2 separate regions of the Homo sapiens genome follow, and region 2 is linked to region 1. Evidence: fine-mapped expression QTL. Tissue or cell type: whole blood. Region 1 holds a variant in brackets; the other region holds the start of a gene. All regions are shown on one strand. Distances are between the middles of the regions.

The links. PIP is the estimated chance that this variant, and not a neighbour inherited with it, causes the effect.
Region 2: it holds the start of C1orf159, and the variant in region 1 is fine-mapped to the expression of C1orf159 in whole blood (TOPMed, PIP above 0.99).

The regions. Positions count from the first base shown.
Region 1 is chr1:1,079,128-1,087,127 of GRCh38, forward strand. It overlaps C1orf159 (chromosome 1 open reading frame 159), which reads right to left. Exons shown (of 10, transcript NM_017891.5): 7 at 6,751-6,885; 8 at 5,354-5,379; 9 at 5,226-5,256; 10 at 2,696-3,860. The coding sequence ends at 3,766. Among named protein-coding and RNA genes, the nearest start is that of RNF223, 8.8 kb to the left of the region's middle. RefSeq lists silencers at 925-1,004, 1,065-1,164, 2,794-2,973 and enhancers at 1,372-2,074, 2,075-2,776. The variant C/T (reference allele first, on the strand shown) is at 3,199.
Region 2 is chr1:1,111,244-1,119,243 of GRCh38, forward strand. It overlaps C1orf159 (chromosome 1 open reading frame 159), which reads right to left and starts at 4,846. Exons shown (of 10, transcript NM_017891.5): 1 at 4,817-4,846. RefSeq lists enhancers at 546-1,047, 1,266-1,560 and silencers at 4,537-5,136, 5,307-5,426, 5,467-5,516.

The DNA of each region.
Region 1 (8,000 bases):
TGCCGGGAGGCTGAGGCTATGGGGACTCCGTGCCGGGAGGCTGAGGCTATGGGGACTCCGTGGGGGGAGGCTGAGGCTATGGGGACTCCGTGGGGGGTGGCTGAGGCTATGGGGACTCCGTGGGGGGAGGCTGAGGCTATGGGGACTCCGTGGGGGGTGGCTGAGGCTATGGGGACTCCGTGGGGGGAGGCTGAGGCTATGGGGACTCCGTGCCGGGAGGCTGAGGCTATGGGGACTCCGTGGGGGGAGGCTGAGGCTATGGGGACTCCGTGGGGGGAGGCTGAGGCTATGGGGACTCTGTGCAGGGCCGCTGTGAGGCCCTGAAAGCACTCGTCGGAGGCTCCTGCTTCCTGAGGTCCGTGACTCGGGTCACATGCCGCCTCCAGGAAGCACCCTGGCCCCTGCAGCTCTGGGAACGTCCTCCCGACAGCTCCTGGGAATATCCTGGCACTGAGGTCACTCTGGGCTCCCGGCTGACACTCGTGCCGGAGGCAAAGGTGAGGAAAGGCCGGAGGAATGTGTGGTCTCGGCGCCAGGCCAGGCCTCCCTGTGCAGGAGAGGAGCCAGCAGCTCCCCTTCTCTCAGCTCAGACGGTCTCTCAGGGCTCTCGGGAGGCTCAGAGCAGCTTGGCTGGCAGATTCCAGGGCAGGGGGTGGGCCCGCCTGGTCCCCTCCGTCGCAGCCAGTGGGCGGGAGGCTGGGCTGGTGAGCGTGTGGGCGTGTGTGAGCACACGTGCCCATGCTTGAGACATGGATGCTGGTGTGAGCACCTGACCCCTCACCTCCTTCACTCGGTCTCCTCACGCCCTCTCAGGGACTCCTTCCCCTCCAGGCCTCGGTTACGGGTCACACCTGGCACTGCCAGGCCTGGGGACGTGGTGCGGCCGGTGCGGGGAGGGGCCTTCCAGGCTGCTGTGGGGCCCCCGGCCTCGCCCCACCCCGCCCCGCCCCGTGCTGGGCCATTGCCTCAAATGCAGCGGCTCTGTTGGCCGTGGGACTGGAATTCTTTCCCAAGGGCCCAGATGTGCAGAGGGGAGGCCGGTGCGGGGGAGCAGGGCTCCGGGACGTGCACTTGGGTCTAGCTTTGCCCCTGACGTGCTGGGGCCGCCCCTAGGCCCAGCTCAGTGTGTCCCTCCTGTGCCCAGTGAGGAGGGCGTGCCCCTCGCTGCCACAGGTCCTGGCTGACCACGTGCTGCCCAAGGGCCAATCGCGAGTGCGCAGGTGGGGGACGTGGGGAGCCAGCTGAGGGGGATATGTGGAGGTGTCAGGATGACCCTGGGTTTTTGGTTTGGGCCACTGGGTGGGAGGAGGAGGAGGGGACCCAGAATTGAGAGATGGGGCCTGGGGGGCTGCTCAGAGGGTGGGCTGGGAGGTGCCTGTCTGTGTCTGGCCTGGCCTCCAGACCCTGCCTGGCTGGACCTGCTGTTCGTGCCTGTTTCCGATTTTATCCTCCAAACCAGACGCCCAGCCTGGTGCAAATGCAGGAGTGGAGTTTCCAGGGGGATGTGGACTCCTTCCCTCCACCCCCACCTCGGTCCCTGTCTCCTTCCCTCCGCCCCCACCTCGGTCCCTGTCTCCTTCCCTCCGCCCCCACCTCGGTCCCTGTCTCCTTCCCTCCGCCCCCACCTCGGTCCCTGTCTCCTTCCCTCCGCCCCCACCTCGGTCCCTGTCTCCTTCCCTCCGCCCCCACCTCGGTCCCTGTCTCCTTCCCTCCGCCCCCACCTCGGTCCCTGTCTCCTTCCCTCCGCCCCCACCTCGGTCCCTGTCTCCTTCCCTCCGCCCCCACCTCGGTCCCTGTCTCCTTCCCTCCGCCCCCACCTCGGTCCCTGTCTCCTTCCCTCCGCCCCCACCTCGGTCCCTGTCTCCTTCCCTCTGCTCCCATCTCGGTCCCTGTCTCCTTCCCCACAGGAGGAGTCTGGGGGCTCCCGCGTCACAGGGGCGTGGCCCAGGGCATCAGGTGGGGCGGTGGGTACTGGGCTCAGAGTGGCCTTGGGCTGTCCAGTCCCTCCCTTTCTCCCCAGGACCAGTGACCCTCCCAGCCCCAGGACACTTCTTGGGCCAGGGCCCAGGGCAGAGCCAATGCTCCCCCAGATACTCCCTGGCTGCAAACCTCAGGCTGGGGGTTTTTGGGGACAGGGATGCAGGTGTCTAAGGACACGACCCTCCAGGCAGTGGACGTTTCTGCCTGGGTGGAGGGCACGGTTACGAGAGCAGGGCCCGCGCTCTGGCATCCTGGTGCCCGGGCCCTCTGCCCTCAAGGCCTGTCCTGCCCCAGCTCAGCCCTCTCTGGCCAGGCCCATCACTGTCAGCAAACACCCCCACACTGCTGCCCCCCCAGATGGCCATGGCAGCCCTCCCGGGGCCCGTGTCTGCAGCCCCCACGCAGCCCGGCCGGCCGATGGAAACGCACACCCACACTCTGTCCCACCTCACTCCGAGCTGGGGGTTCGGGGACCACAGGTCCCACCTGCACAGGTTGCATCTGGGGAATGGGCCTGTGGCAGAAAATGTGCGGCGCGGGGCGGGGGGTCCCAACCAGGCAGCCCCAACCTGGACTCTCCTCCACCCCCGTCCCACCTCCTTGCCCCCAGCACACGGTGGCGGAGTGCGTGGGGCCAGCCTGGCGGGGGCTTTGCTCCCCGACCTGCACTTAGAGAACAGAGCATCCTACGGGAGAGAGCAGCTCGGAACGCAGCTTGAGTAATGCCGACTTTATATCAGCACACCCAGTGCCCCCACGTTCCCGCTGGCCCAGGTCCCGGAGACCATGATGGCACCCACAGTGGACTTCGCAAAGGAGCGTGGGGACCCCGAAGGCCAGGCCACCCCTCAGAGGGGGGTCCCATGCTAAAGCAGACGGTGCCGGTGCCGCAGGGCGTCTGAGACCCACGGTGGAGCCCGGGCCTGGCGTGCGGGAGGCGGCCACGACGGCGCCTTTCTCCCAGGAACTCCGGGAGGGACCCCAGGACTCAGCGCCAGGGCAGCCTTGGCAGGTGCAGTGAGGCAGTGACTTGTGGGGGTTAGATGTGGGCCTGCCCCACGTGGGCAGGGATCAGCCAGGCATGGGGGTCCAGCGGATCCGAGCGGGGCCACAGAGCTCTGGAGGACTTTTCTGCACAATGAATTTCTGCTTAAAAACAGAGATCAAGAGGAAGCTCTATCCTGCAGCTCCGGAAATGGGTGGCTGCGTGCTTGGGGT[C/T]TCCGCCACGCGGGAGGACAGCCCAGAGGCACCCTGGTCTCAGGCAGCTGGTTCCTAGGCTGTGTCCTCCCCACTGGCCGGGCACCGGCTGGAACGGCACGAGGACCAGCCTCACTGTTCTCAGAGGGGTCTCGGGCCACTGGGTGTGGTGGTGCTGGAGGAGTCCTGCCCGCTGTGGGCTCTGGAGGGCACGGCAGCAGAGCCCCTGGCTTTTCTAGGCAGAGCGGCACCTGCCCCATAGATCGTGCCAGCTTTGGCTGCAGGCGCTGGGGCCTCACCGTGTTTCCTGGGGGGGCCCGGACCCCCCAAGGCCTCGATCTGAAGCTCTGAGGTCTCATGGATGCCTGCTCCTGGTCCGATAAACGAGATGGCTGTGGTGGGGAGGAGCCTCAGGCGGCCCGGGACCCTTTGGCGTCCGTCGCTGGGAGGCGGAGGGACTCAGAGCCGAGGCTGTGCCCAGGACTGTCCCGGGCGCCGGGCGATGCCAACACTTTGTGCTGGTTCCCGCCAAGGGGTCGGCCTCCGGGTCCCTGCCGCCAAGTGCGTGGCGTGGTCTCGGCCTCCAGGTCAGACATTGCTGATACGGGCCTCCCCCGGGAAGGCAGCGGGATCCGTGGCCCTGTCCAGGGGCCGCTCCCGCCTGACGTAGCGCGGCTTCCGTACTGAAACGGGTCAGAGACAGGCGAGGTCAGAGTGGGACCTGGACAGCAGGGACAGTGCAGGCCTCAGCCCTCACCGGAGGCTCTCGGGAGTGGGCATATGGCACAGGCGCCCGGGGCTGTTTACTCTGACCAGGTGGGAACCCAGATGCCCCCTGCCCCTAAGGCGCCCTCAGAGCTCCAGCTCGGGAAAGGGACGGCTTCCTCCTGCCCGGCTGTGTCCTCTCATTTACACCCTGGGCCCCGGGGCCTGGACAAGGGCCAGGCGATCCCCGAAGACAGAGATGTGGGTCCCAGAGTATCATGCACCTCAGGGGGCGACAAGCAGGCCGTAGTCCCAAGACCTCGAATGTGACCTTATTTAGAAGAAGGGGCTTTGCAGGGGGTTACGTCAGGGTCTCAGGTGTGATCGCCCAGGGTTCCCCGGGCAGGCCCTGAAACAACGGCCAGGGCCCACCTGAGAGAGAGGCAGAGAGAGAAGACGCAGAGGTGGGGGAGACGCCGTGGGACCAGGGGACAGAGACGGGCAACGCAGCCACAGATGCCTGAGCCGGCAGGGGCTGGGAAGGCAGACAGCGTCCTCCCCGGAGCCTCGGGAAGCGTGTGGCCTTGTTTGCCCCTTGGTTTTGGACTTCTGAACTCTAGGATAGTCAGATTAAAGGTCTGCTGTTGAAGCTGGCAGCCCCGGGGCACTCGGGCACCGTGGGGTCTGCTGGGCACTTGCAGACAGGGCTGCTTTAGGGACGGGGCACGTCCAGCCTTGATGGAGAACGGTCTGTCCCCTAAAGGCACGGTCACCTGCCCCCATGACAGACTTCTGCACAGGGGGACGGAGGCCGGGTGAGCCCTGCTCATGGCCTTGGAGCTGTGTGGCTGTGCGCCGGTCACTCAGCCTGTGTCTGTGGCCCCGCACATAAAATGGGTCCTAACCGGGCTGACTCTTGGGTCCGCCTGACCCAGCACCACTGAAGCGATGGCTGCTCAGGAGGGCCTGGCGGAGGCCGGCTGCGTCTGTCCTCGGGTGGAGCTGGACTTCAAGGAGGAGCAGGTATTGGGGGTCTGCCCTGTCGTGGTGGGTCCTCCTTTCCTGCAGACCCCACGTCTCGGGAACAGGAAAGAGCATGGAAGTCACGGGGATTAAAGGGGGGCGGGCAGGGGGCGCCGGCCAAATCCAGCTGAGATCCAGAGCAGGGGGCACCAGCCAAATCCGGCCCTGGCCCTGCCTTGTGGGTGGGTCTCCTGGGGACCCGGGCAGGGGTGGCCGAGATCCAGAGCCAGGCAAACCCGTTTGGGGACAAACCCACAGAGCACCCTGGGACTGGCCCAGAGATGGGAAACCCCACAGGGGGATGCGACAGCTGCTGTTACCTGAGGACTGTGGCGGGGGGATCATTGCAGCCTTGAAAAGGAGAGAAAGGCAGAGTGAGGACTCGGGATGGCCTGGCACAGGCACACGCGGCCAGGGACGCTCAGCCCGGATGATGTGGGTTACTTACGGCTTCGCCAGGCTGCAGGGCCGGAGCTGTGGGGGAGAAAGCGGAGAGTCACCCTGGAGCCCAGGAGCTGCCTCAACCTCAGCCCAGTGCAGCGTCCGGGACAGCAGAGCGAGGAGCTGCCTCAGCCTCAGCCCAGTGCGGCGTCCTCGGAGCAGCAGAGGCCCCGGGGCTGCAGGGTCTCCCCCAACCTCTCCCTGCGGTGCATCAGCCTGGCCCTCGGTCCTGCCACATTCCTCCGGGGCACTCACAGGTGCGGGGGCCTCCCTAGCACCCCAGGTGAGTCCCCGCTCCCTGGACCCACCTTCCCGCCTCAGCAGAGGGGACAAGCCCCCCTCATGAGAAGCGTCTCCCCAGGCTCCAGGGTCCCAGGGGAAGGGCTGCCCTCCCACCCTCCCGGGAGGAGCCTCAGGCACGAGGTGGCTTTGAGCCCCACGGCCGTGGGCTTCTGCCTCCATGGTGCCCCCGCGATGGGGGTGCCGTGGCATCGTGGCCAACCTGGCTTCTCGTCCCGTGGCCACCAGGGCTGACCAAGCCCTGAGCCCTGCTCTGCTCCAAGGGTGCCCATAGGCAGAGATGCTGAGCAGGCCGGGTCTCTCGGTGCCTGGCTGTGCAGGAGACCCTGGCAGCGGGCTCCCGACTGGAGGCTGGGCCCTGAGACCCCGAGAGAGGTTGAGGGGGATGGACAGGGGTCTCACAGCAGCCAGGTGGGGCTGCCCAGAGACCTGGGAGGAGGCCCCAGCTCGGCTATCACAGTCTGGCCAAGTGCTCACCTTGGGGTCCGAACTGCTGGCTGGACCATCTGCCTGGCAGGGACCCTGCGGGGGCCGGCCCTGGACAACGAGGGCAGGCACCACGGACCCTGCTCAGAACCCGCCCCCGCCTGAAGGCACCACAGTCACAAGGCCGTCTCTCCAGTGGGAAGGGGTCAGTGCCCAGGCCCGGGGTGACCGTGTGTACGGCGTGGCGTAGGCTGGGGTGTGGGCCCTGCACCAGCCTGGCCAGCCCTGACCCCAGGAGAGGGGAGGGGGGACCATGGCTGCTGGAGGAGCCCAGGCAAGTCCAACTGCCGAGAGCCACCCAGCCCCGCTCCACTCGCCCCTCGTGATGCCCTGAGGGCCCCGGGGAGACGCCTCTGCCGGAAGAGGGCTCCAGCAGAGGTTCTGGGCCCCGAGGAAGGCCCCTTGGTGCTTCGACCCTTCAAATCCACACACGGCTGTTTCCGGGAAGTGACGGGCCTTCTCACACCGGGACCCAAAAGCCACAGGACAGGCCCTGCTCCCTCCCGGCCTCTGCCAGCCTGCTCTGGCCTGGGACACTCCAGTCTCAGGCCCATCTCCACGGCTGGATGCCGCCTGCCCTGTGCCCTCCCGTGGGGCAGGTGCTGGTCCGGGAGATACCTTTGTTTCTTCTGTAGCAGGCCCTGGGGAGTTTACTGGAGCGCTTGAGGTAGAAGAACCCAGCTACGGAGAGGATGAGGCCGGAGCTAATGAAGAACGTGCCCAGGAAGAGGGAGGCGGCCACGCGCGGAGCCCCTGCAAACAGACACCGCTGAGCAGACGGGCAGGACGGTGGCCCTGGCTCCTCGCCTGGCCCCCGGTGCCCCCTGCACATGGCAGATGCGCTGCTCTCTGAACATGCCTGAGCCTCACGGGACCGGCTGTGGGTGCCGAGGGCTCTGCACATGGGCCTGGGTCATCCCTGCAGGCTCAGCCATGCCTGGGCATCTGGCCGCGGGGTCTGGGAAAGTTACCACCTGCCCCGGCCTCAGCTTCTCTCAGGAGCTCGGATGTTGGGAGCGTTACAGGGGCTGACCCTGGCCGGGCTCTGCGGAAACACCTCTCCGATTCCAGTTGCCCCTGAAAGCCAGGGGGTTCTCAGCCTTGTTCCTTCCTCCGGGCTCAGCACAGGCCCTGGGGCCCCCACACAGGGCAGAGCCTCAAGCTGGCAGCAGGTGCTCCTGCACCCCACTCACCTCCACCTGCCTGGGCCAGGACAGGCCAGGGCTGCTGGCCTGGGGCTCGGGACAGTTGGCAATGGCTGCTGGGTGTGCTCTGAGATGCTGGGGAGGAGACTCCCCAACCCTGAGACACAGGCGTGTTTGCCAGGCTTGGGGGCCTCGCTCCTTCCTGCCCCAGCACAGAGCCACAGGAGGCCAGGAGCCCATCCAGGCCAACCCCACCCTAAAACACTGCCACTCAGGTCAGCAATGGACCCAGGCCAGCTCAGGGCCGTGAGTGTGAACCTGAGAGCGTGCAGTGTGGCCGTGAGCGTGAACCTGAGAGTGTGTGGTGTCAGCGTGAGCCGTGAGTGTGAGCCTTAAGTGTGAACCTAAGAGCGTGCGGTGTGGCCGTGAGCCATGAGTGTGAACCTGAGAGCGTGTGGCTGTGAGCTGTGTGACCCTGAGAGAGTGCGGTGTGGCCATCAGGGCCTCCCCTAACTACGGCCCTTTAGAGATGTGGCAGAGCCCCCCATGACGCCCCACATCCCCCACCCACACCAGCTGACCCCAAGCTGCAGGGGCTGCCACGCTCCCCTCTGGCTGTTTTGCAGAACCCTGAGCCTGCTGTGGCTGCGTCAAGGGTGAGGGTCTGCACTGGCTCCGACGGCCCCCAGCCCCCAGGACACCGGCAGAGGTGGCTGTGGCCTG
Region 2 (8,000 bases), 32 kb after region 1:
CAGGGCAGGTGTGGAGGCTCAGGCCTGCAATCCCATCATTTTGGGAGGCCAAGGTGGGAGGATCGCTTGAGCCCAGGAGTTCAAAACCAGCCCGGACAACAGAGTGAGATCTCATCTCTACCAAAAAAAAAAAAAAAAAAAAATAGCTGGGCTTGGTGACGTATACTTGTGGTCCCAGCTATTTGGGAGGCTGAAGTGAAAGAATCTCTTGAGCCTGGGAGGTCAAGGCTACAGTGAGCCATGATCGCACCACTGCACTCTACCTGGGCGACAGAGCCAGACCCCGTCTCAACAACAACAACAAAGAACTGGTTTCAAGAAAAAAATGATGCCTCAGGTCACTGTGATTTTAAATAAGTAACATCTTGCAAAACAACCCTGTAAAAGCAACCACCGGCTGGGGCAGTGGGTAGACCACACCCACGCTCACCGTAACTCCAGCCGCCCAGGCAGCAGTAACTGAAAAGGGGAGGCGGGAGGGTCCACTGGCGGGTTTCTCACGCTGCTGAACCTCGGTAAACACAGCCCCGAGGGCTGGCTGGAGCTTCCACTGCATCCGTGTAGCTAATGCTGGTCATCTTCGTAGCAAGCAAAGGAAGCCAACGTGAAACGTAGCTTTAAGGGCCCAATAAGAACTGTCTGGGGCCTCTCTACCTAAAGATCCCTCTCGTGCTTTGATAGAAAACAAATACCGCAAACCCCTTGATGGGGTGTAAAGGAGACATCCCCCTTTGTTGACATGCATGGTAGTCGCTGCCCACCTACCCGTGGGCTCAGCACACCGGAGTCGGGCGGTTGCCGTAGGTGGCTCAGCAGACGTGAGCAGGGCAGGATCGGGCCCATCCCCCCACCGGGAATGTCAGGCCACCATCAGGTGATGGTCAGGTGGCTGTTAACTGTCTAAAAGAACTGGTTGCACCCAGCGCCAGGGAAAGACAGGCTCCCAATAGCTAGAAAACACATGAAATCCGGTGATGGGCAGCTTCCCGATACGATCTCAGGAACTGGGCGAGTTGGCTCAAGCGTGTGCACTGAGAGGCAAAATGGCGGCGTGTAACCGTTCTATGACCTTCTAGGGACGTTTGACAGGTAACGGAAGAACGCCTCAGGTGAGCATGGGCACTACTCCAGTGAACACACGGCGCACGGTCCCTCCCTCCAGTGAACACAACGCACACGCTCCCTCCCTCCAGTGAACACACAGCGCATGCTCCCTCCTTCCAGTGAACACACGGCACATGCTACCTCCCTCCAGTGAACACACGGCACATGCTCCCTCCCTCCAGTGAACACAACGCGCACGCTCCCTCCCTCCAGTGAACACACAGCGCATGCTCCCTCCCCCCAGTGAATACACGGGGCATGCTCCCTCCCTCCAGTGAACACACCGGGCATGCTCCCTCCCTCCAGGGAACACATGGCGCATGCTCCCGCCCAAGTACTAGCAAGATGCTGCATGGGTGGACAGCCCACCCTGAAGAAGGATCAGGGGAGAAGGGGTGCAAGACCCCAGAAGCCTGCCAGGCTATAAAACCCCAAGTCAAAAGGTGAAACCGCACACCTGATCTCTCACATCGCCCGTCTGGCCCTCCTCCAAGGGTACTTCCTTTCCTTCCTGCTCTAAAGCTTCTTCAACAACTTTCACTCCTGCTCTAAAACTTGCCTTAGTCGGTGGGGTGCGGTGGCTCACGCCTGTGATCCCAGCACTTTGGGAGGCTGAGGTGGGTGGATCATCTGAGGTTGGGAGTTCGAGACCAGCCTGACCAAAATGCAGAAACCCCTTCTCTACTAAAATACAAAAAATTAGCCGGTTGTGGTGGCAGGCACCTGTAGTCCCAGCTACTCGGGAGGCTGAGGCAGGAGAATGACATGAACCCGGGAGGCAGAGCTTGCAGTGAGCCGAGATTGTGCCACTGCACTCCAGCCTGGGCGACAGAGACAGACTCCATCTCAAAAAAAAAAAAAAAACTTGCCTCAGTCTCTCCTTCAGCCTCATGTCCTTCCATCAAATTCTTTCTTCTGAGGCAGCGAGAATCGAGGCCGCTGCTGACATACTTTGGTGCTGAAACTCAGATACATTCTGCCAGTAATAGAGCTCTGAAGGCTCACCTGAGCTCCACACTCCACCTCGGCACACGCAACCCTCAGCCAGAGTGGTGAGAAGAGGTGGCTCTTTCTTTTCTTTGTGAAACAGGCTGGAGTGCATCGTTGCGATCTCGGCTCACTGCAGTCTCCACCTCCGGGGCTGAAGCGATCCTCCTGCCTCAGTCCCTCGAGTAGCTGGGACTGTTAGTGGCAGAATATGTCCCACTTCTGACACCAAAGCATGTTAGCAGCAGTGAACCTCAATTTTTCCCTCCTCAGAAGAGTTTGATGGACGGGTAGGAGGCAGAAGAGACCTTAGAGCAGGAGCAACAGTTTATGAAGAAGCTTTAGAGCAGGAATGAAAGGAAGTAAAGCGCCCTTGGAAGAAGGCCAGGCAGGAGACCTGAGAGATCAAGTGCGCAGTTTGACCTTTGACTTAGGGTCTTCCACGCTGGAGGCTTCCGGGGTGTTACGTCTCCCGATTCTTCCCTCGGGGTGGGCCGTCCACCCGCACAGCGGCTGCGGGCACTTGGGAGGGAGCATGCACAGAGTTTACTGGAGTTGTGCGCACGCTCCCTCGAGGCCTTTTTTTTTTTTTTTTTTTTTGAGATGGAGTCTCGCTCTGTCACCCAGGCTGCAGTGCAGTGGCGCAATCTCGGCTCACTGCAACCTCCGCCTCCCGAGTTCAAGCGATTCTCCTGCCTCAGCCTCCTGAGTAGCTGGGACCACAGGCGCCCGCCACCATGCCCGGCTAATTTTTGTATTTTTATCAGAGACGGGGTTTCACCATATTCGCCAGGCTGATCTCAAACTCCTGGCCTTCTGATCCGCCCCCCTCCCCCCACGGCCTTGCAAAGTGCTGGGATTACAGGTGTGAGCCACCGCGCACAGCCAGGGCCGCCTTCTCTTACCAGCCAAATGTCCCTGGTAGAGGGGGGCCCCTCTTCTGCCCTGCTCATGTCTGACTAGCTACCTACTGTAACGGGCCACAGGTGCTTGCCCCCATGCCTGGATAATATTTTTTATTTTTTATAGAGACGAGGTCTCCCTATGTTGCCCAGACTGGTCTCAAGCGATCTCCCACCCCAGCACCCACAGCGCTAGCTGTTCTTTAAATGAGCTACCCAGTAAGTCAAAGCTCAGGTGGAGAGCAGCCGCAAGGCAGGGAGCAGCTGGGAGGTATCTCAGGGGTTCCCGGGATGCTGCCTGTGCACCCCAGGGCTGAGGTGACTGCGTGTGGAAACACCTGCCTGACTGGCTTTTAGGAGGAGTACTGGGGGCGGGATGTGTGTCAGGAAAACAACGTTTCTGTATAATTCATAAACATGTATGTTAAAAACAACGTGGCCATGACGGATCCTGGCTGAATGCAAACGGGGAACATAAACCTGAGTAATCAGGCGCATCACTGAACATCCCAGGCGGCCGCCCCTACCCTGGGGCTCAAAACCGGCTCCCTCTGCGAGGGTTTCCCAGGTTAAGCCATCAGGAAACAGGAAGACGCCTAAGAACGATACACTGGACTTTGGGGACTCGGAGGGAAGGGTGGGAGGGGGACAAGGATAAAAAGCTACAAATAGGGTGCAGTGCGTACTGCTCGGGTGATGGGAGCACCAAAATCTCACAAATCACCACTAAAGAGCTTACCCATGTAACCAAGTAACCAAACACCACCTGTACCCCAGTAACTTACGGAAAAATAAAAGAGGAAGACGCAGCTCTGCCTTCTCTGCACACCCTGGTAATACTAAGAAAAATGAAAACCAAAAAAAGGAGGCCAAGTTTGACATCCTGAAATTTAACAGGACGAGGCGGCTAAGAATTCAGCCACAAAATAGTTCCCGGGGAAGAAGCCGCGTTTGCTTTGAAACGCGGTAAGAAATGCCCCCGAACACCTGGGCTTAAATTACACCCAAACTCAATCATCGACTCGCTGCCACCGGAACACGCGCTCCCGAAAAACTGCACCCCGACTAGCCCTCGGCTACTCCAGGTGACAAACGGACAAAAACAAATCCTAAAGCCTCGCGGGAAAAAGACCTGAATCGTGGCCGACTTCTAGGACACCGGGGACCGCGCCGGTGCCCCCACTCCCGGCTGCCGGGAAGGCGAGGCGAACGCGCCCCCTTTCTTCCCCCGGGCGCCCGTCCCATCCCCTCCCCAGGGACCCCCTCCCTGCCCCGAGAACCCCCTCCCCTCCCCAGGTGCCCCCTCTCCCCCAGAGACCCCCTCCCCTCCCCAGGGACCCCCTTCCCTGCCCCGGGAACCCTTCCCCTCCCCAGGGACCCCCCTCCCTCCCCAGGGACCCCCTCCCCTCCCCAGGGACCCCCTTCCCTGCCCCGGGAACCTTTCCCCTCCCCAGGGACCCCCCCTCCCCGCTCCGGGAACCCCCTCCCCTCCTTAGGGACCCCCTCCCCACCCCTCCCCGGGGTCCCCCTGCCCTCCTCAGACGCCCCTTCCCCTCCCCAGGCGTCCCGCTCAGCCCGGGCGCCTTTCCCCCATAGGACCGCGGCCAGGCTCGTTGGGAGGCGGCGACGAGGACGCGGGCCCAGGCGCTGGCGGCTCCTCCGCGCGCCGCACAATGGGGGACGCGCAGGGAACGTCCCTCGGGCCGGGCCAGGGCCGCCGACCTTTGTCTGCCTCTCGCACTCCCTGCGCCGACCCGGCCGCCCAGACGGACCCCAGCGCCCCAACCCGCTACCCTCACGCCTGCCCCCAGCCCCTCACTCACCCCGGCGCCCTCCGGGTTTCTCTTTCGTACACCCCGCCCTCAGGCGGTGGCGCCGCGCCCCCTGGGACTTGTAGTCTTTCTTCCGCCCCGGCCCCGGCGCCAGGCCCCGCAGCTCCCAAAGAAAACTACAACTCCCGGCGGCCCGCGCGAGAGCCGCCCTCGCCTGGTGGTACCATCGCGCGCGGCCGTGGGTGGGGCGCCGGGGCGGGGCGCGAAGCGCCCTGGGAAATGTAGTCCTAGAAGAACCAGCGCATGTCTCGGGTCCCTGACACGGAGGGACTACATTCCCCCGGATTCCTCGCGCGCCGGCTGCTTGGCGTTGCCGGGAGACGGGGCGGGGCGTCGTCGGGGTCTCCCGGGCGACCGCACAAGCGTCGGCGTCCTTAGCGTTCCGCCGGTTTAGGCGGAGGCGGAGGCGGAGCGTTTGGGGGCGGCCGGGGCGGCTTCGGCTTCATCGGAGAAGGCGGCGCGGCTGCACCAGGTTTGGCCGCGGGCGCGCGGGGCCAGCGCCCTCCAGACCCACGGAGCGCCCCGAGCGCCTCGCGAGCCGCCGCCAAATGCGCCCCAGGTCCGCGGCCGGCGCCAGTGCTGGGACCTCGGCGGCCGGTGTCGGAGCGCGGCGGGAGAGACCCTGCCTTGGGTGCGGGACTGGGACGGCTCGGACCCAGAGGGCTCCCGGGGCTTCGCCTCTCGGACGGGTCAGGGCTCTGCGGTCTCAGGACGCTCCCCCGTGAGTCTCGGCGGCCCCGGGGTCTGGGCGGCGTCGCTGCCCCACAGGCCGGGCGCGTGGGTTTTTCCGGGGCTCTGCCTCTGAGCCACCCTCGGAGAAAAGACAGCTCTGTGCGTCCCGCGGCGCCCGCAGCTTTCGGCAAACATGTTTAAAGGAGCTCCCCGAAGGAACTGGGGACGTCCGTCCGCTCATCAAAGGCTTCAATCCTGTCGGTGTCCCCGGGCCCTCTCCTAGCTGGGCCAGCGCGCAGGGTGGGGGGGCGCTGCAGGTGTCGCGGCCCCCCCCAACCTCCGCAGACCCTTCCAACCCCTCAGACCCCCCAAAACCCCCAGATCCCCCAACCCCCCATATACCCCCAACCCCTCAGACCCCCCAACCCCCCAGACCCCCCAACCTCCCAGGCCCCCAGACCCCCCAGCTCCCTTGCTCCCGGGAGCTCCCAGGCCCGTCCTGCATGCGCCTTGGGGTTGTTCCTCCTTGATGGACGCCGCCTCCGGGTTCCATCCCAAGTTTAAATGCCAGAGATTTCAATGGAAATAAAGCCCCCATCTTAACAGCGTGAGGATGTTTTGTAAACAGTATTGGGGACAGCTGGGGAAGTCACATTTGTGTCTTCTCTTTAGAGGGACAGTGTTCGCCTGAGGGTCCATCCCAGGGTTCCCTCAGGGCCTCTGGAGGAGTTGATGCCACCAGTGTCTGGCCGTGGGACACCTGGGCGTGGGCGCCCAGCACCAGGGGTTCGCTGACAGCTGCAGGGTTTCCGGCCATGCGCCCGCGGACGTGCAGCTTCTGTGTCGGTCCCATTAAGAGGAACCTGGCCTGGGCGACGTTTGAGGACCACGGGGAGGACACAGTCGCGGTCCCCTTCTCGGAGTCCAGTCTGTGCCACAGGCTCTTGCCGTCTGCGGCAACTCATTGTGGAGCTGAGCCAGTGTTTCCACTTCCTTTTTGTTTTTTTGTGTTTGAGAGGATTTCACGCTGTCACCCAGGCTGGATGCAGTGGCATGATCGTGGCTCACTGCAGCCTGGACCTCCTAGGCTCAAGCGATCCTCCACCTCAGCCTCCAGAGTAGCTGGGACCACGGGTGTGTGCCACCATGCCTTGACACATATTTCTTTATTTTTTTGTAGAGACGGGGGTCTGTTTTGCCCAGGCTGGTCTCAAACTCCTGGGCTCAAGCAGTCCTCCCGCCTGGCCCTCCCAAAGTGCTGAGACTACAGGCGTGAGCCACCATGCCTGGCGTCCACTTTCTTGACTATTTCCTGAAGACCAGCGTTTCCCGGGTGGTTTCACAGCTGCGGAAGCTGCCTGTGTCAGTGTCAAGTCCCTACCCCTCGGCTTGGCCTGGGGCTGTGGCCCTGGGTGACCGTGTCCTTATGCTGGAGCTTGGTCCACAAGTGTCCCCGCCCCTTGTTCCGTCACTCATGGTGGTCTGCACCTCTCTACACGTTGGCCCCTGTCAGAGGGAAGAAGGCAAAGTCCTGGAGCTGCGGGAAGCCGTGCAGTGCATGTGTGTGTGCCTCGGGCCCGGGCTGCAGGCCCCAACAGGGCCCACCCAGCACCTGCTGAACTGTGCTCTGAGACCAGCACCCACCTGATCTCTGGGAGCAGAGCCCCTGCCGGCGTGGGCCAACCTGACAGCAGCTGCCTGGGCACTGGGCACTCCCTCGTCTGTCAGGCGGGCAGTGGATAGCTCGTCCTCTCCCTGGGGAAGGGAGACGAGGCCATGCGAGATGTCCCTGGAGGCTCCCTCCTGAGTAACCGCACGGGGTGCACATTCCCGAGAACACGAAAGGGTGCAGGATTCCACTAGGCCAGGTGGAAACATAAGGACACCGTAGGGTCGCATCAAGTTGAAGGACAATCTCTAGACTAAAACAGAAACGACATTTACTCCCCTAAGGGCCACACGGGCTGAATCCCATCCTCAGGTTATAGCAGGGATGCTAGGTCTGAAAGCCACAGGGGAGCATCGTAAGTCGCAGGTGCCCACAGATCACACCAGGGACCCCACCTCTGCCAACCGGGCTGTTTGTGTCCCCGAAAGGGAGCACTTTCCTCCCCAGAGACTTCAGGTGCAGTATGGGAAGGTTGGGGAACTAAAAAGCTGTGCACTAATATTTTTTGTATTAAAATAGAACCATCTTATGTTTGTAATGCATGGGGTTTTGTAGGGGCGGGATGTTTTGTTGAGATGAGGACTCGCTCTGTCGCCCAGGCAGGAGTGCGGTGGTGCCATCGTAGCTCACTGCAGCCTCGACCGCCCGGGCTCAAGGATCCTCCTGCCTTGGCCTCCCACAGCACCTGGGGCCACAGGTGTGAGCTGCCGTGCCCAGCCCGGCATTCATAATGCTCAAGAGAACTTGTCCTGAGAGAGGGTCGGCTTTGCCACTGAATCATCTTTCAAATGAGGAAATTATTTAGGCTCTGTAGTGTAAGTGGAATCTTACTGC